Regions from separate parts of the Homo sapiens genome. Here region 2 is linked to region 1. A link means that fine-mapping ties the variant in region 1 to the expression of a gene that starts in the linked region. Tissue or cell type: whole blood. Region 1 holds a variant in brackets; the other region holds the start of a gene. All regions are shown on one strand. Distances are from middle to middle.

The links.
Region 2: NOCT starts here. The variant in region 1 is fine-mapped to the expression of NOCT in whole blood (INTERVAL, PIP above 0.99).

Annotation. Positions count from the first base shown.
Region 1 is chr4:138,926,565-138,936,366 of GRCh38, forward strand. All of the region lies in intron 2 of LOC105377448 (a long non-coding RNA gene), which reads right to left. Among named protein-coding and RNA genes, the nearest start is that of NOCT, 84 kb to the right of the region's middle. RefSeq lists an enhancer at 6,398-6,952. The variant T/C (reference allele first, on the strand shown) is at 4,878.
Region 2 is chr4:139,010,125-139,019,926 of GRCh38, forward strand. NOCT (nocturnin) reads left to right here and starts at 5,657. Exons shown (of 3, transcript NM_012118.4): 1 at 5,657-6,047. The coding sequence starts at 5,858. LOC105377448 (a long non-coding RNA gene) reads right to left here and starts at 2,522. Exons shown (of 3, transcript NR_133945.1): 1 at 2,471-2,522. RefSeq lists enhancers at 4,017-5,216, 4,353-5,274, 5,307-5,656 and a silencer at 5,797-6,096.

The DNA of each region.
Region 1 (9,802 bases):
TTGCCTCCCATTCACATATACCACCTGTGATGTCCCATGCAGAGAATTCTGGTGGACCCATGATGCATGAAAGTTCAGTGTAACTCAGTGATAGGTGACCCCCTACCCCACAACCCAGCCAAGAGGCCGTGCTTTCCCTTTGAACCAGTTTAGCTTGAAAGAATCAATACTGTTTAAGCAAAAAGAACAACCAAGGAACCCTACCATATTCTTTCTCACTCATGTTACATCGCTATATTAGCCAACCACACTGAAAAGGACATAGAAGGAAAGGGAAAGATGGGGCAACCCATAGTTCATTTTCCTTTCTCATCAGTTAAGCCAAAGGTAGTGATTTGTTGGTAGAGTGTGTCATATTAAGTCAGATTTTTACATAGACTGGAAAAAGTACAGTGTTTATTGGTCATTTTAAAAACTCTTACAAAACAATAAGAAAAAGATAAACGTTCCAATAAAAAACAGGTTTAGGGCACTAATACGCACATTACAAGAGAACTTCAAATGACCAACATTAAACATTATAAAATGTTTTTAACTTTGCTAATAATTAAAGAAATACAAATAAAAACAACAGTGATCAAAAATTTTCTACTCAGAAGTTTAGAAAAGATGAAAATGAAAATATCAGCACCCAGTACAAACCTAAAGTGGAAAGCAACTGGAAAAGAGCTTGACTACACTGATCAAAATATGAAATGACTCAGCAATAACATTGCCAGGAAACTGCTAAAGAGACATAGGGACATTTATAAAGATGAATATGCAAGGCTGTTCACTATAGCATTGTTTAGCATATCTAAAAATTGAAATAACCTCAATGTTGATCCATAGGTGCTGTGGTCTGAATGTTTGTTTCCTCTCAGCATTCATGTTGAAATTCTGACCCCCAAGGTGATGATATTAGGAGGTGGAGCCTTTGGGAGGTGATCAGACTATGAGGATAGAGCCCTTGTGAATGGGCTTAGTGCCCTTATAAAAAAGGCCTGAGAGAGACCCCTCACTTCTTCCACCATGTGAGGACACAATGAGAAGATATCATCCGCAAACCAGAAAGTGGGTCCTCACCAGATACCAAATTTGTGAGTGTCTTGATCTTGGACTTCCCAGCCTCCAGAAGTGTGGGAAATAAATAAATACATTTATATTGTTTATAGACTATCCAGTTTATAATATTTTATTATAGCAGCCCAAACAGACTAAGACAATAGGGTATACGTTAAATCAATCACAGTACATCTATGTTTGCAGTTGTTAAAAAAGAATTAGATCACTGTCAGGCCTCTGAGCCCAAGCTAAGCCATCATATCCCCTGTGACCTGCACGTACACATCCAGATGACCAGTTCCTGCCTTAACTGATGACATTCCACCACAAAAGAAGTGAAAATGGCCTGTTCCTGCTTTAACTGATGACATTGTCTTGTGAAATTCCTTCTCCTGGCTCATCCTGGCTCAAAAGCTCCCCCACTGAGTACCTTGTGACCCCCCACTCCTGCCCGCCAGAGAACCCCCCTTTTTCCTTTACCTACCCAAATCCTATAAAACGGCCCCACCCCTATCTCCCTTCACTGACTCTCTTTTCGGACTCAGCCCACCTGCACCCAGGTGAAGTAAACAGCTTTATTGCTCACACAAATCCTGCTTGGTGGTCTTTTCACACAGACGTGCATGAAATTTGGTGCCGTGACTCGGATCGGGGGACCTCCCTTGGGAGATCAATCCTCTGTCCTCCTGTTCTTTGCTTGGTGAGAAAGATCCACCTACGACCTCAGGTCCTCAGACCAACCAGCCCAAGAAACATCTCACCAATTTTAAATCAGGTAAGCGGCCTCTTCTTACTCTCTTCTCCAACCTCTCTCACTATCCCTCAACCACTTTCTCCTTTCCACTCTTCAATCTCTCCCTTCTCTTAATTTCAATTCCTTTCATTTTCTGGCAGAGACAAAGGAGACAGGTTTTATCTGTGGACCCAAAACTCCGGTGCCGGTCACGGACTAGGGAAGGCAGCCTTCCCTTGGTGTTTAATCATTGCAGGGACGCCTCTCTGATTATTCACCCAGGTTTCAGAGGTGTCAGACCACGCAGGGACACCTGCCTTGGTCCTTCACCCTTAGCGGCAAGTCCCGCTTTTCTGGGGAAGGGGCAAGTACCCCAACCCCTTCTCTCCGTGTCTCTACCCCTTCTCCACCTTTCTGGGGGGGCAAGAAACCCCCAACCCCTTCTCCTTCACCCTTAGCAGCAAGTCCTGCTTTTCTGGGGGAGGGGCAAGTACCCCAACCTCATATCTCTGTGTCCCAATCCCTTATTTCTGCACCCCGACCTCTTATCTCTGTGCCCCAATCCCTTATTTCCATGCCCCGACCCCTTATATCTCTTTGCCCTGATCCCTTATTTCCGCACCCCAACCTCTTATATTCTCTGCACCCCAATCCCTTATGTCCATGCCCTGACCTCGTATTTCTGTGCCCCGACCCCTTTCCCACTTTTCTGGAGGGTAAGAACCCCTGAACCCCTTCCCCCCGTGTCTCTACTCTCTTTTCTCTGGGCTTGCCTCCTTCACTATGGGCAACCTTCCACCCTCCATTCCTCCTTCTTTTCCCTTAGCCTGTGTTCTTAAGAACTTAAAACCGCTTCAACTCTCACTTGACCTAAAATCTAAGCATCTTATTTTCTTCTGCATTGCCACTTGACCCCAATACAAACTCGACAGTAGTTCCAAATAGCCAGAAAACGGCACTTTGAATTTTTCCATCCTGCAAGATCTAAATAATTCTTATCGTAAAGTAGGCAAACAGTCTGAGGTGCCTGACGTCCAGGCATTCTTTTACACATCGGTCCCTTCCTAGTCTCTGTGCCCAATGCAACTCGTCCCAAATCTTCCTTCTTTCCCTCCCACCTGCCCCCCTCAGTCCCAACCCCAAGCATCGCTGAGTCTTTCTAATCTTCCTTTTCTACAGACCCATCTGACCTCCCCTCCTCCCCAGGCTGCTCCTCGCCAGGCGGAGCTAGGTCCCAATTCTTCCTCAGCCTCTGCTCCTCCACCCTATAATCCTTTTATCACCTCCCCTCCTCATACCCGGTCCGGCTTACAGTTTCATTTGACTAGCCACCCCCCGACCTGCCCAGCAATTTACTCTTAAAAAGGTGGCTGGAGCTAAAGGCATAGTCAAGGTTAATGCTCCTTTTTCTTTATCCCAAATCAGATAGCGTTTAGGCTCTTTTTCATCAAATATAAAAATCCAGCCCAGTTCATGACTCCTTTGGCAACAACCCTGAGACAGTTTACAGCCCTAGACCCTAAAAGGTCAAAAGGCCGTCTTATTCTCAAAATACGTTTTATTACCCAATCTGCTCCTGACATTAAATAAAACTCCAAAAATTAAATTCCGGCCCTCAAACCCCACAACAGGATTTAATTAGCCTCACCTTCAAGGTGTACAATAATAGAAAACAGTTGCAATTCCTTGCCTCCACTGTGAGACAAACCCCAGCCACATCTCCAGCACACAAGAACTTCCAAACACCTGAACCGCAGCAGCCAGGCGTTCCTCCAGAACCTCCTCCCCCAGTAGCTTGCTACAAGTGCCAGAAATCTGGCCACCAGGCCAAGGAATGCCTGCAGCCCAGGATTCCTCCTAAGCCGCTTCCCATCTGTGCAGGACCCCACTGGAAATTGGACTGTCCAACTCACCTGGCAGCCACTCCCAGAGCCCCTGGAACTCTGGCCCAAGGCTCTCTGACTCCTTCCCAGATCTTCTTGGCTTAGCAGCTGAAGACTGACGCTGCCTGATCACCTCAGAAGCCCCCTAGATCATCACGGACGCCGAGCTTTGGGTAACTCTCACAGTGGAGGGTAAGTACTTCCCCTTCTTAATACGGAGGCTACTCACTCCACATTACCTTATTTTCAAGGGCCGGTTTCCCTTGCCTCCATAACTGTTGTGGGTATTGACAGCCAGGCTTCTAAACCTCTTAAAACTCCCCAACTCTGGTGCCAACTTAGACAACACTCTTTTAAGCACTCCTTTTTAGTTATCCCCACCTGCCCAGTTCCCTTATTAGGCCGAGACACTTTAACTAAATTATCTGCTTCCCTGACTATTCCTGGACTACAGCTGCATCTCATTGCCGCCCTTCTTCCCAATCCAAAGCCTCCTTTGCGTCCTCCTCTTGTATCCCCCAACTTTAACCCACAAGTATAAGATACCTCTACTCCCTCCTTGGTGACCCATCATGCACCCCTTACCATCTCATTAAAACCTAATCACCCCTACCCCGCTCAATGCCAATATCCCATCCCACAGCATGCTTTAAAAGGATTAAAGCCTATTATCAATCACCTGCTACAGCATGGCCTTTTAAAGCCTATAAACTCTCCTTACAATTCCCCCATTTTACCTGTCCTAGAACCAGACAAGACTTACAGGTTACTTCAGGATCTGCGCCTTATCAACCAAATTGTTTTGCCTATCCACCCCGTGGTGCCAAACCCATATACTCTCCTATCCTCAATACCTCCCTCTACAACCCATTATTCTGTTCTGGATCTCAAATATGCTTTCTTTACTATTCCTCTGCACCCTTTATCCCAGCCTCTCTTTGCTTTCACTTGGACTGACCCTGACGCCCATTAGGCTCAGCAAATTACCTGGGCTGTACTGCCGCAAGGCTTCACAGACAGCCCCCATTACTTCAGTCAAGCCCAAATTTCATCCTCATCTGTTACCTATCTCGGCATAATTCTCATAAAAACACATGTGCTCTGCCTGCTGATCGTGTCCGACTAATCGCCCAAACCTCAATCCCTTACAAAACAACAACTCCTTTCCTTCCTAGGCACAGTTAGTGCGGTCAGAATTCTTACACAAGAGCCAGGAC[T/C]GCACCCTGTAGCCTTTCTGTCCAAACAACTTGACCTTACTGTTTTAGCCTAGCCATCATATCTCAGTGCAGCGGCTGCTGCCGCCCTAATACTTTTAGAGGCCCTCAAAATCACAAACTATGCTCAACTTACTCTCTACATTTCTCATAACTTCCAAAATCTATTTTCTTCCTCATACCTGACGCATATACTTTCTGCTCCCCAGCTCCTTCAGCTGTACTCACTCTTTGTTAAGTTCCACAATTACCATTGTTCCTGGCCGGGACTTCAATCCGGCCTCCCACATTATTCCTGATACCACACCTGGCCCTCATGACTGCATCTCTCTGATCCACCTGACGTTCACCCCATTTCCCCGCATTTCCTTCTTCCCTGTTTCTCACCCTGATCGCACTTAGTTTATTGATGGCAGTTCCACCAGGCCTAATCGCCACACACCAGCAAAGGCAGGCTATGCTATAGTACAAGTCACTAGCCCGCCTCTTAAAACCTCTCATTTCCTTTCCATCGTGGAAATCTATCCTCAAGGAAATAACTTCTCAGTGTTCCATCTGCTATTCTACTACTCCTCAAGGATTATTCAGGCCCCCCTCCCTTCCCTACACTTCAAGCTCGAGGATTTGCCCCCACCCAGGACTGGCAAATTAGCTTTACTCAACATGCCCCGAGTCAGATAACTAAAATACCTCTTAGTCTAGGTAGACACTTACACTGGATAGGTAGAGTCCTTTCCTACAGGGTCTGAGAAGGCCACCACAGTCATTTCTTCCCTTCTGTCAGACATAATTCCTCAGTTTAGCCTTCCCACCTCTATACAGTCTGATAACAGATCAGCCTTTATTAGTCAAATCAGCCAAGCAGTTTTTCAGGTGTTAGTATTCAGTGAAACCTTTATATCCCTTACAGTCCTCAGTCTTCAGGAAAAGTAGAACAGACTAATGGTCTTTTAAAAACACACCTCACCAAGCTCAGCCACCAACTTAAAAAGGACTGGACAATACTTTTACCACTTTCGCTTCTCAGAATTAAGGCCTGTCCTCGGAATGCTACAAGGTACAGCCCACTTGAGCTCCTTTTTATTAGGCCCCAGTCTCATTCCAGACACTAGACCAACTTGGACTGTGCCCCAAAAACTTGTCATCCCTACTGTCTTCTGTCTAGTCCTACTTCTATTCACCGTTCTCAACTACTCATACATGCCCTGCTCTTGTTTACACTGCCAGTTTACACTGTTTCTCCAAGCCAGCACAGCTGATATCTCCTGGTGTTATCCCCAAACCACCGCTCTTAACTCTTGAAGTAAATAAATAATTTTTGCTGGCAGGACTATGATGAATCTCCTAAGGCACTCTAATTATATGTCCTAGGTCCTCCCAATTCTTAGTCCTTTAATACCTGCTTTTCTCCTCTTATTCCATTTACTTTTTCAATTCATACAAAACCGTATCCAGGCCATCACCAATAATTCTACATGACAAGTGTTTCTTCTAACAACCCCACAATATCACCCCTTACCACAAGATCTCCCTTCAGCTTAATCTCTCCCACTCTAGGTTCCCACGCCACCCCTAATCCTGCTCGAAGTAGCCCTGAGAAACATCGCCCATTATCTCTCCATACCATCCCCCAAAATTTTCGCTGTCCAAACACTTTACCACTATTTCATTTTATTTTTCTTATTAATATAAGAAGACAGGAATGTCAGGCCTCTGAGCCCAAGCTAAGCCATCATATCCCCTGTGACCTGCACGTACACATCCAGATGACCAGTTCCTGCCTTAACTGATGACATTCCACCACAAAAGAAGTGAAAATGGCCTGTTCCTGCTTTAACTGATGACATTGTCTTGTGAAATTCCTTCTCCTGGCTCATCCTGGCTCAAAAGCTCCCCCACTGAGTTCCTTGTGACCCCCCACTCCTGCCCACCAGAGAACAACCCCCCTTTTTCCTTTACCTACCCAAATCCTATAAAACAGCCCCACCCCATCTCCCTTCGCTGACTCTCTTTTCGGACTCAGCCCACCTGCACCCAGGTGAAATAAACAGCTTTATTGCTCACACAAAGCCTGTTTGGTGGTCTCTTCACACGGATGCGCATGAAATTCACTTTATATCCACTGACCTGGAAAATGTACACAATACAGTGTAAAACTTTTTAAAGCAAATTATAGAAGATAAAATGATCGCATCTGGGAAAATATGTGTGTACATTTTTTTTTTTTTACTAGTCCTGTCTCATCCTAGGGAGATCATAAAGTTACCTTTGGGAGGTAGAATTAATTGGGGACAAGAATGAATAAATGAGATGACTTTTCACTTCATGCCTTCTGCAATGTTTAGGAAAAAAACATTTCAGAGCATGTCTTTCTGATAATTTGTTTTAAAAAATCACATTAAGATAAAATCATTTACTGCACATTGACCGGGCACGGTGGCTCATGCCTGTAATCCCAGCACTTTGGGAGGCCAAGATGGGCAGATCACGAGGTCAGGAGATCAAGACCATCCTGGCTAACATGGTGAAACCCCGTCTCTACTAAAAATACAAAAAATTAGCCGGGCGTGGTGGTGGGCACCTGTAGTCCCAGCTACTTGGGAGGCTGAGGCAGGAGAATTGCTGGAACCCAGGAGGCAGAGGTCGCAGTGAGCCGAGATCGCACCACTGCACTCCAGCCTGGGCGACAGAGCGAGACTCCATCTCAAAAAAAAAAAAAAAGAAAAAAACATTTACTGCACATCTGTACAATGAATATTAAGTGACCATTAAAAATGATGATGTTGGCCAGGGGCATGCCCCAAGCTCGTAATCTCAGCACTTTGGGAGGTCAAAGCAGGCAGATCTCTTGAGCTCAGGAATTCAAGACCAGCCTGGGCAACATGGTAAAACTATCTCTACAAAAAAACAGAAAACAGCCAGGCAAGGTGGCACACGCCTGTGGTCCCAGTTACTTGAGGGGATGAGAAGGGAAGATGGCTTGACCCCGGGAGGTCCAGGCTCCAGTGAGCCATGTTTGCACCACTGCACTCCAGCCTGGGTGACAAAGTGAGACTCCATCTCAAAAACAGAAAAGGTTAATGCCGTAATCTATACATATTGACCTCAAAATGTGGCCACAACATATATTTCTGAAAAAAAGAAAAGAGGTTACTGAACAATATATGTAAGACAAACACGTTTGCATAAAATTCTGCATCTGTTGAGAGAACAGTGTCAGCTGTCTGAAAAGATGTTCCTCAAATATTGATAGTAGTTATTGCTGGGTAGTGTTACTTTTAGTGATTTTTACTTTCTTTATACTTTTCTGTGCTATGTAATTTTTTTTACAATGAGTGTATAACCTTTTTCTAAATCAGAAAAAAAATCTATTTCTATTTTGAAAGTTTTAATATGTGCTAGGAAAATAAGAAGAGTAAGAACGTTTCACAAAATGAATAAAAAGTAATTTCTTCCTGATTCCCAGTAGTATCTCTAAAGTCAGCACCAATAAGGATCATAACTTAGAACTGCATATTTTCTGAGTTGAATCTTTTTGCCCCAATTTTGCTAACTATACTAAAAACAGTATTTCAAATTCCCCCCACCACAGAGAAAATACAAGTTCATCCCTAATCTATTCAGCAAATTCAACCCCAACCAGGGGTTTCTTCCTAAACTAATTTATTCTTAACTTTTTCATTTATCTCCCAAGCACTATGTTTGATGTTTAAAAAGAAAAAGCACTGACTTGACCTAATATTAGTACTACATGAATGTGCAGGTTTATTTTCCCAATTTTGTCCTGATGGCAGTAATTATTTCAGAACCTTGCTAAGTCTTACTTGCTTATCAGTCTTTCCAATAATTCTTACCAGCAAAACTGGCAGTTTTATCCTTCTTTTCAACAGAGATTTAGAGGCCAAGAACTATAGTGAATTCTCACCTGACAAAGCGTTTATTGCCTTTTTCAAAATATACTGCAGGACGTTTATTAGTAGACTATGAAGTATTTATCACCAGTAATTAAAAATAAGCTGTACTTGTTGGAATAAATGCAGAGTCAGAGATGCAATACTATTACTTTTTATTGTTTATTTGCTCTTCTTTTAACCTAATATAAAAATTCCTTTACTAACGTGCTAAGGCATTTATCTTAAGGCTGATGTTAAACAAACCTGTTTGCATTTTACTAAGCAGACAAGGAAAGCATCAGAAGTCACTATAAAAAGATTTCTAAGGCAACAGTGAGAAGATCCAGGAATGTTTGTGCACTGCTAGTAGAAATAAAGGCAAATTGACCTTTAAAAGATAAGAAGGTAATCTGCAACATAGAGCAACCACGTTCTCATCCTTTAACCTAAAAATTCCACTTATAATTTGTATCCTAAAAACTAATCATAAATATACAAAAGTGATAGCTACAAGATTGTTTAACCATTGGAACTTAGTTTTTTAAATTTTCCGAATAACAAAACACCTTGCAGCCATTAAAAATAGTGTTGCAGAAGAATATTTAATTACAAAGAAAAATAGGAGACAAGGAGTTTATAATATGCATATGCACAACATGATTGCAAGTTATAGCTTAGATAAATAGACAGATAGAGATCAGAACTAGAAATATATCAATCAAGCATTAATAAGTCACCAAAACATAAATGTTGAAATCTCTGGAGGATGGAATTATGGGTGGGGTGTATACTCTTCTGTGTGCCCATCTGTATTTTCCAAATTCTTACAATGTATGTGTGCTACTTTTGTAATGGGAGAAGTTCTTATTAAGAGATAGTAAGTGCCCTCTAGAAGCTTGTTGAATGAATGAATTCAATTTCTTTTTTATATCTCTCTCCTGCTTTGAGGACTCTCCATATATGTAAAGTTGTCATTTGAGAAGAAAAAGCTTTAGCTGTAATTCAAACTTAGTCTCACTGAGACCTGTATAAGTA
Region 2 (9,802 bases), 84 kb after region 1:
TTGCCCATGCTAGTCTCAAACTCCAGGCCTCAAGTAATCCTTGAGCCTCATCTCCCAAAGTGCTGGGATTACAGGCATAAGCTACCATGCCGGGCCCATAGTTTCAATTGTTTACAAAGTGACTCCACCTGTATGTTCCATGGACACATCACAATTATATGTTCACATATCAACTCACTATCTTCCCCTGAGAGCAGCATCTCCACTTGTTATCCCCATTTGGTTCCATTATCCATCAGTTACCAAAGTCATCACTAGATTCCATTATCTCCTGCCTCAGCCCCGAGATTCAATGTCACTCAACCCTATGGTTTCTGTCTCCTTTGCAGTTCTTAAATCCATCTCCTTTCCACCATCCTGCCCCCAGTTTATTTATCTGGGAGGTGGCATCGAGGGAGGAAGAGGGATGTGCATTAGAACAACCTGTGTAATGTTAACCAGAAAACATACAAGCCCAGCGTGGTGGTTCACACCTGTAATCCTAGTGCTTTGGGAGGCAAAGGTGGGATGATCGCTGGAGGCCAGGAGTTTGAGACCAGCCTGGGCAACACAGCAAGACCCCATCTCTACACAAAATTTTAAAAATCACTTGGGCATGATGGTGCATGCCTGTAGTCCCAGCTGCTTGGGAGGCTGAGACAGGAGAATCGTTTGAGCCCAGGGGTTTGAGGTTACAGTGAACTATCATCGCACCACTGCACTCCAGCCTAGATTACAAAGTGAGACCTCTCAAAAAATTAAATAATAAACAAACAACCAGCCGGGCACGGTGGCTCACGCCTGTAATCCCAGCACTTTGGGAGGCTGAGGTGGGTGGATCATGAGGTCAGGAGTTCGAGACCAGCCTGGCCAAGATGGTGAAACCCCGTCCCTACTAAAAATACAAAAAATTAGCTGGGTGTGGTGGCGCACGTCTGTAGTCCCAGCTACTTGGGAGGCTGAGGCAGGAGAATCGCTTGAACCGGGGAGGCGGAGGTTGCAGTGAGCCGAGATCATGCCATTGCACTCCAGCCAGGGCAACAAGAGTGAAACTCCGTCTTCAAAAATAAATAAATAAATAAATAAACAAACAACCATTACATACCCTACCCCATCTCCAGAGATTCTGAACCTGTATATACTCTTCCTCATCTTCACCGTCCTTACCCATTTTCAACACTGCTGGCAGAAAGATCCAATGATCCTTCAAAAATGCAAACTGTCTGTTTAGCCTTTCACTGGGTCTCTAGGATGAAAGTCCAAACTCCTCTCAAACCCGTCACCTTGGGTTCTTGCCCACAGCTTCCACCTCACCTGCGGCCACTCCCTATGGACATCCCGCACTCAACCCTTATCAGATTGCAGCACTTGCTGTTCCTGGAACACGCCTTCTTTCCTCGCCTTAGTGTTCTCTTCTCTGTGGATATCCTCTGTGATACCTTTCCACTTGGTAGTCACTTTGTTCAAAACGCCTCTCCTGACTTCTCTAGGCAATTAGTTATTTCTGTCAGAGGTGTTGGAGCCAGAGCAACTCTATGTTGAATAGAGGCTGAGACCTACTGGGCTGCATTGCCAGGAGGTTAGGGATTCCTAGTCACAGGATGAGATAGGAGGTCAGCACAAGATATAGATCATAAAGACTCAGCGGATGAAACAGGATGTGAAAAAGAAACCAGCCGGCCGGGCGCATTGGCTCAGCAGACGGATCACGAGGCCAGGAGTTCAAGACCAGCCTGGCCAACATGGAGAAACCCAGTCTCTACTAAAAAAAAATACAAATTTAGCCAGGTGTGTTGGACTACTACGCGCCTGTAGTCCTAACTACTCGGGAGGCCAGGAGTTCAAGACCAGCCTGGCCAACATGGAGAAACCCAGTCTCTACTAAAAAAAAATACAAATTTAGCCAGGCGCGTAGGACTACTATGCGCCTGTAGGCCTAACTACTCGGGAGGCTGAGGCAGGAGAATTGCTGGAACCCGGGAGGCGGAGGTTACAGTGAGCCGAGACCGTGCCATTGCACTCCAGCCTGGGTGACAGAGCGAGACTCCATCTCAAAAAAAAAAAGAAACCAGCCAAAACCCACAACAACCAAGATGGTGATGAAGGTGACCTCTAGTTGTTCTCACTGTTTATTGTACGCTAATTATAATGCATTAACATGATAAAAGACACTCCCACCAGTGCCGTGACAGTTTATAAATGGCACAGCAACATCCAGAAGTTACCCTATATAGTCTAAAAGGCAGAGAAATCCTCAGTCCTGGGAAATCCTTGCCCCTTTCCTGGAAAATTCACGAATAACCCTCTCCCTAGTTAGCATGTAATCAAGAAATAGCCATAAAAATAGCCAACAAGGCCGGGCGCAGTGGCTCACGCCTGTAATCCCAGCACTTTGGGAGGCAGGTGGATCACTTGAGATCATGAGTTTGAGACCAGCCTGGCCTACATGGCGAAACCCCATCTCTACTAAAAATAGAAATAAAAAAATTACCTGGGTGAGGTGGCACGCATCTGTAATCCCAGCTACTCTGTGGGCTCAGCAGGAGAATCACTTGAACCTGGGAGGTGGAGGTTGCAGTGAGCCGAGATCGTGCCGTTGCACTCCAGCCTGGGTGACAGAGCGAGACTTCATCTCAATTAAAAAAAAAAAAAAGAAAAAGAAAAAGCCATAAGCAGCCCTCAGTGCTGCTCTGCCTATGGAGTAACCATTCTTTTATTTCTTTACTTCTCTAATAAATTTGGTTTCACTTTATGAGCTCGTCCTGAATTCTTTCTTGTGTAATATTCAAGAACCCTCTTTTGGGGTCTGGATTGGGACCCCTTTCCAGTAACATTTCCTCTTCTCTGGTCCCACAATACTTTGTCCATAAGTGATTCTGTACTTATTAGCAGATAATTACAAGTATTTTTGTTTATACAATGTCTTACCCCCTAAACTGTCAATAGATTTTGTTCAATTTATTTTTGTATGCTCTAATATAGAGCCTGGCACATAATGTGTATTCAACAAATGTTTACTGAATAAATTTTCAAGGGAATAAGTTTTAATTTCTATCTTTCTGATTGCTTAGTGTTTAATATATTATAAAAAATATGATTCAGGCCGAGCGTGGTGGCTCATGCCTGTAATCCCAGCACTTTGGGAGACTGAGGCGAGGGGATCACCTGAGGTCAGGAGTTTGAGACCAGCCTGGACAATATGATGAAACCTTGTCTCTACTAAAAAATACAAAAATTAGCCAGGCGTGGTGGTGTGCGCCTGTAGTCAGAGCTACTCCAGAGGCTGAGGCAGGAGAATGGCTGGAACCCGGGAGGCGGAGGTTGCAGGGAGCCAAGATGACGCCACTGTACTCCAGCCTGGGCAACAGAGCGACAGACTCCATCTCAAATAAATAAATAAAAAAAAAATAAATAATATGATGCACTTTCAGGATAGCATGCTCTTTGAATCTCTTTAAATAGTGACAGTTTATATTTGAACAGTTATTTTTTCATTTTTCAAAGCACTTTTCCCCAACATTTTATTATGAAAATCTCCAAATATATGGGGGAAAAATAATTGTAAGTGAACACTTGTGTCGGGACTCAGAAACTGATAGCCCAAAATATGGGGCTTTGACCGGCTGAATGGAAGCCTCAAGGTCTCTCTGACCTCACTGCCCAGCACCATCTCTCCCAAAGCACAGGATGAAGTTGAAGTTCCTTTATCTGGCTACAATCCGAACCCACCAAAAGGAACAATTGTTTTTTCTTCCCCTCCTTGTAAGACCAAAAATGTAACCACCTGAACAGACCCTTTCACAAGATAATGTGCAAGTTCATCCCTGTGCCCTGATCCATTCACTTTCCCTAGTCATCTCCTCAACAGAATGCCTCTGCTCCCCTCTCCCCAAGTCTGTTGGCCAGGATGGTAGACAAGCTTCTGAACCCCGTTGGGGGTGTGTAATCACTCTGTGATTCTCCCCATGTACATGTTAATAAATGCATATGCCTTTTCTCCCATTAATCTGCCTTTTGTGAGTTGATTTTTCAGCAAACTTCAGAGGGCAAAGGGAACATTTTTCCCATGGTCCCTATACCCATATATACCCACTACCTAGATTCAAAATCAACATTTTGCTATATTTGCAAAACACTTTTCATAGGCTAATTTTATTATCACCTTTTTAAAAAAATTCTTTTTACAAGTACTGCTCCTTGTGGAGCAGGACTACTCGATAGACAGTGTGCCCAGAGTAGCTTATTATCATTTTTTATTTCACCTAATGACTAAGGTATGATTCTATGTTTTATAGATAAGGAAACTGAAACTGAGGCTTTAATGACTTCCAAGGAGCTTGTCTGCCAGAAGTTGTAATCAACTTGTGCCAGCTGATCTGTCCACACCCTCTATCCACAGGTGTTAGATATGTAACCTAGGTCTGAAAAATATTTAGAATATTCTTGTGATGAAAAGCTTGCAATTCCACAACACAGGGGAATCAGCAAAATCATGGGAAAACCAATAGAATACATTTCTAACTCATGAATCATTCAGAGAAAAATCCAGTCTTGGGTTTTCCCTCCCCCTCATCCCATTTCTATTCCTGATTAGTCATCATTTCCTGCCCAGCCTGTCTGAGATGTTTCTTCCATCCTTTCTTTTCCAGTAACAGTAACCTGGTGCGGGTCTACAGTATCTGTTATCTCAGCTGATTTCCTTTCTGCCTTTTCATGAACCAGAGACATGTGATTTCCAATTAAAGCACAGCCCTGACCATGTCTTTGCTCAGCTTACAAAACGTCAACGGCTCGCAGCTATCCACCGAATTAAGCCTACTATAATCCCCTTCCTTCCACACTACAACCTATCCACGCATCTGTCCTCTTACTCCTTAGCTTCCATCTTACATGACTAAGAGTTGTTTCCCCAAATACACCCTTATTTACTTTTTTCATTTATAACTCACCACCACCCCCTCCAAAGTTTCACGTGGGTAAATTCTAGACCTCCACGTCATAGGCCAACTCAAATGCCAATCCTTCTAATGAACCTTCTAGAGAGCCCGGGCCTGTTGTCATCTCTATAGCCAATCTTTGGCATCTTGTGGCAATAATCTCATTCTACCTTGTAGAGCTTTCTGGTCTGACTTCCCTTGCCACCTTCTGCTCCCTTTGCCTAAGTATAACACTTTTGAGGAAAAGAACGCTGTTTTAATCATCGTCGCCTCGCCCACAGGCGGTGCTTTATTGTGCTTAATATCGTTTAACGCATCACACACTGCCGAGGGGGTCGGAGGCGGACGCCTTTTGCTGTATCCACACAGACCCGCGCAGGCACACACGTAGGCCGTCTGCCACTCTGACAGACACGTGTCCCCTGGGCCACAGCCCTGGAACTGTCTCGGGATTCCCAGCCTGTGGGCGCTTCCATGCTGGCCAGCGGAAGGGGACGCTTTTTTCTTCAGAACAGCTCCAACGGATACCTCTTATTTTAGACCGCCTGCGGATTCTATCTATAAATCAGCCTAAGCCCCGCTTCCTTTTAAAACAGGATTACGCCGGGTCGAGGGAGCCTGGCGTGGCCGCGCAGTGGCCGGGTCCCGCGGATTCCCCTCCAGCTCCCGCTTGGTAGCGCCCGCTTTGTCAGCGCGCAGCGCTCGCCGGGCGCCCTGCAGGTCTCGCCAGGTCTCACAGCAGACGGTGCCGACGCAGCGGTGTTGCACCTCCCTCTCCGGCTCTGCTGCCCGGGATTTCCCCAGAACCTGCGCCGCGCGAGAAGGAGCCTGGGAGCATCCGCCCACACTGCCCGGACAGTCGGCTCGACTCGGTGCCCTCGGCCCCAGCCGGGCTCCGCTCCTCGGGCGCGCGAGGGGCCGTGGTGGCGGCGGCGCCCGGCATGTTTCATAGTCCGCGGCGGCTCTGCTCGGCCCTGCTGCAGAGGGACGCGCCCGGCCTGCGCCGCCTGCCCGCCCCAGGGCTGCGCCGCCCGTTGTCCCCGCCGGCTGCTGTTCCCAGGCCCGCATCCCCCCGGCTGCTGGCGGCGGCCTCGGCGGCCTCGGGCGCCGCGAGGTCGTGTTCCCGAACAGGTGAGTGCACCCCAGTTCCGGGCGGAGAACGCCACGGCCGCCAACGCGCGGCCGCCACCTGGAGACCGCGCGGAATGAATGAGAAGCCCGGGGCTGCCGGTCGTGGAGTCTGGCCTGAAAGTGGGTCCTTTACCGGAGCAACCTTCTGCGTTCCCTTTTTCCTCTTTCCCTGTTCCCCGACTTGCCTGGGGCTTGCATCAAAGCTAGTAAGAACTGGGAGACTGTATTCAGGTTCCCGCTTGACCCTTAGAGGCCATGCTTTCAGAATTTCTTGTTCTTGACCGTTAAATTTCCCCCTTCCGAGGCCGCGAGTTACTATGTTGGTTACATTTTTTATTGCACGACTTAACGGAAATTTTTATGGAAAAAAAAATCTAAATGATGCTTATTTGCTTATATAGCTTTCATGGTCTAGATATTAAGTTTTTTTTTTAAGTCGTGATAATAACACATTGATTCGTTTTACGTTGTTTTTTTTTTTTTTTTTTTTTTTTTTTTTTGAGATGGAGTCTCACTGTGTCACCCAGGCTGGAGTCCAGTGGCACGATATCGGCTTACCGCAACCTCCCGCTCCCGGGTTCAAGCGATTCTCCTGCCTCAGCCTCCCGAGTAGCTGGGATTACAGGCGCCAGTCACCACGCCTAGCTAACTTTTGTATATTTAGTAGAGACGGGGGTTTCACCATTTTGGCCAGGCTGGTCTTGAACTCCTGACCTCGTGATCCACCCGCCTCAGCCTCCCAGAGTGCTGGGATCACAGGCGTGAGCCACCGCGCTCGGCCATTTTACGTTTCTTTGGATTTTTTTTTTTTGGAGGCTTCCACTCTTTATAGTTAACATCATTTTTTGTCCTGTGTATCTAAGATCTTGTAAAAGTGAGGCCTTAGTTTCACCAAGAGCTGTTTTCATACATCATAATAACTACCCTGAGTTTTCCTTTTTTGCTACCTCTGTTTCTGCCTGGGCACACATTACCATGGCCACAAATTACATACAAATTAATTATACTTTAAAAATTGATAAATTTTTTCTTTCAAAACTAGGCAATACATAACTTTTTTTTTTTTTTTTTTTGAGACGGAGTTTTGCTCTTATTTCCCAGGCTGGAGTGCAATGGCGCGATCTCGGCTCACCGCAACCTCTGCCTCCCGGGTTCAAGCGATTCTCCTGCCTCAACCTCCCGAGAAGCTGGGATTACAGGCATGCGCCACCGCGCCAGGCTGATTTTTGTATTTTTAGTAGAGATGGGGTTTCTCCATGTTGGTCAGGCTGGCCTCGAACTCCCTAGCTCAGGTGAACCTCCCGCTTTGGCCTCCCAAAGTGCTGGGATTACAGGCGTGAGCCACCGCCCCCCCGGCCTATAAAATTTAAAAAAATAGGCCGGGCGCGGTGGCTCACGCCTGTAATCCAGCACTGTGGGAGGCGGAGGCGGGTAGATCACCCGAGGTCAGGAGTTCGTGACCATCCTGGCCAATGGGCTTGGGCGTGGTGGCACTCGCCTGTAATCCCAGCTACTCTGGAGGCTGAGGCAGGAGAATCACTTGAACCTGGGAGGCGGAGTGTTGCAGTGAGCCGAGATCGCACCATTGCACTCCAGCCTGGGTGACAAGAGTAAAACTCCGTCTCAAAACAAAATTAATAAAAATTTTAAAAAATGTATATATTTTAAAAATGGTCATCTGGAATGTGATTGAAGCCAAGACTTTAAACTATTCGCATTGTTGGCAGATATTTAGGTATTTCCCAATCTAGTATCAAACTCCTGGCCTCGAGTTATCCTCAGACTCTGGAGCAGTTGAGATTTGCAGGTGGAAGCCACCATGCCCAACTTAGTCATTTTAAAATTAGGATGTTGAATTGGTTGCTGGAGATTCTGAACTATATTGTTCCTTAGAGTGAACTTGACAGTTAGATTCCCCACCCCCACCCCCAATTTCGTAGGAATGTGGTACATTGTGAAATAACTGCCAGAATGAGTATATTGCCTGATAACTTTTTTCTTGCTGGAAATTTTAAGAACAACATTGTTAGAGGTTTGAGGTAGGAAAAGTAAAAGAAAACCAGGTGATGTCTTCTGTACCAGCTTATATCTTAAATTCCCTCAAAGTCTCAGAGGCAGGGTTAGTAGGTACCTCCTCATGGGAATACTGTTAGCTTGTGTAAAACATAGATGGCTGTGTTATCTGAGTAATTACTGTTATCTGAGTAATAATATCAGGTCAGATTGGAATGTTGGGCTTTTGACCCAAGAAAGTGTTTAATGAACTTCTTTTAAGAAATCCCCTGAAACCCCCTAGTTTTACAGATAAGGAAATTGAAGGACTTTATGGTACTTAAACTTTTGTAGGCAGTTACTATAAAGTCTAGACAATTTTCCTGTTCATGCATTTTTAGCTTCAGCAGCTTGTTGGAAGAAACATGCCTGCATTGATTCATTCATTGCTTGTTCACTCATTCCAGATCTTTACAGAATGTCTCACACAATGTAGGTGCTTTATTATGGGAGTTAAAAACATGAGCTTTAGTCAGTCCCTAAGGAGTTTACTGCCCAGTAAGAGATGAGATTTGCACAATGAAATGGCTGTTTAATGAAATGAAACACCTTTTATTCTCTTGACTTGGAAATGGCACAAGGGTGCAGGAAAGCAGGAAGTCCCTTTTGGGCTTCTAGAAATGGGTGGCATTTCAGCTGGCTCTTGAAGCATGGTTAGGATTGGAAGAGATTACTATAAAGCGTTTTGTTTGGAAAAAGCAGGAGTAAATGCAGAAAGGCATGAGACACACACAGATGAGGAAGGGTGAGAGAAGAGGCACTTTGCAAAAATGGACATTGTTTTCCAAAGAGCCTCAGACCCAGCACTAAGTGCTTTTTAATTTTAATTTTTATTTTTATTTTTTTTGAGACAAGGTTCTCTCGCACTGTTGCCCAGGATGGAGTGTAGTGGCGCCACCTCTGCTCACTGCAACCTCCACCTCCCAGGCTCAAGCAGTTCTCCTGTCTCAGCCTCCTGAGCAGCTGTGACTACAGGCACACGCCACTGTGCCGGGCTAATTTTTGTATTTAGTAGAGACAGGATTTCAACGTGTTGCCCGGGCTCGTCTCAAACTCCCCAGCTCTGGTGATCCACCTGCTTTGGCCTTCCAAAGTGCTGGGATTACAGGTGTGAGCCACTGCGCCCAGCCTATGAAGTGCTTTTTTAAAATGCAGATTCTTGGATCCTACTGTAGACCTATTAAGTCTGAGTCATTCATGATGGGCCCTGGATTCCACATAACCAAATGAAATGACAAAAAGAATAACTCCAGATTGTTCTTCTATGCCCTCAAATTTGGACATCTGGCACCCATATGTGAGAGAGACATTGAAGGGGCCAAAAGCTCCTCTCCACTCCTGAGCCTTGTGGTGGGGAGTAGTGAGTCCCGACAGCTGTCCACATTTGCTAATCAGTTCCTGCATAACTTATGCCCCTTGGCAATTGGTAGTTATTGGGAAGATAAGTACAGTCCCTTTGGAGTTATCAGATTCCAGGTTGTTAGAATTAAAAGGTGACCCTAGGGATGATCTCGGTGTTTGGCTTTCTTTTCTCAAGGATAGCAGCCCCCCTAAGAAGTAGCAGTTGCCACAGTTACTGTACTGGATGAAACGCAGTTGGAAGTCATCTGTGGATTTATAAATGCTATCCTCCACATCCCTCCTCCTCAGAGAATGAAGAGCTGGCTGAACTACTGTTCTCTACCATTAGAACATTTGCTTTT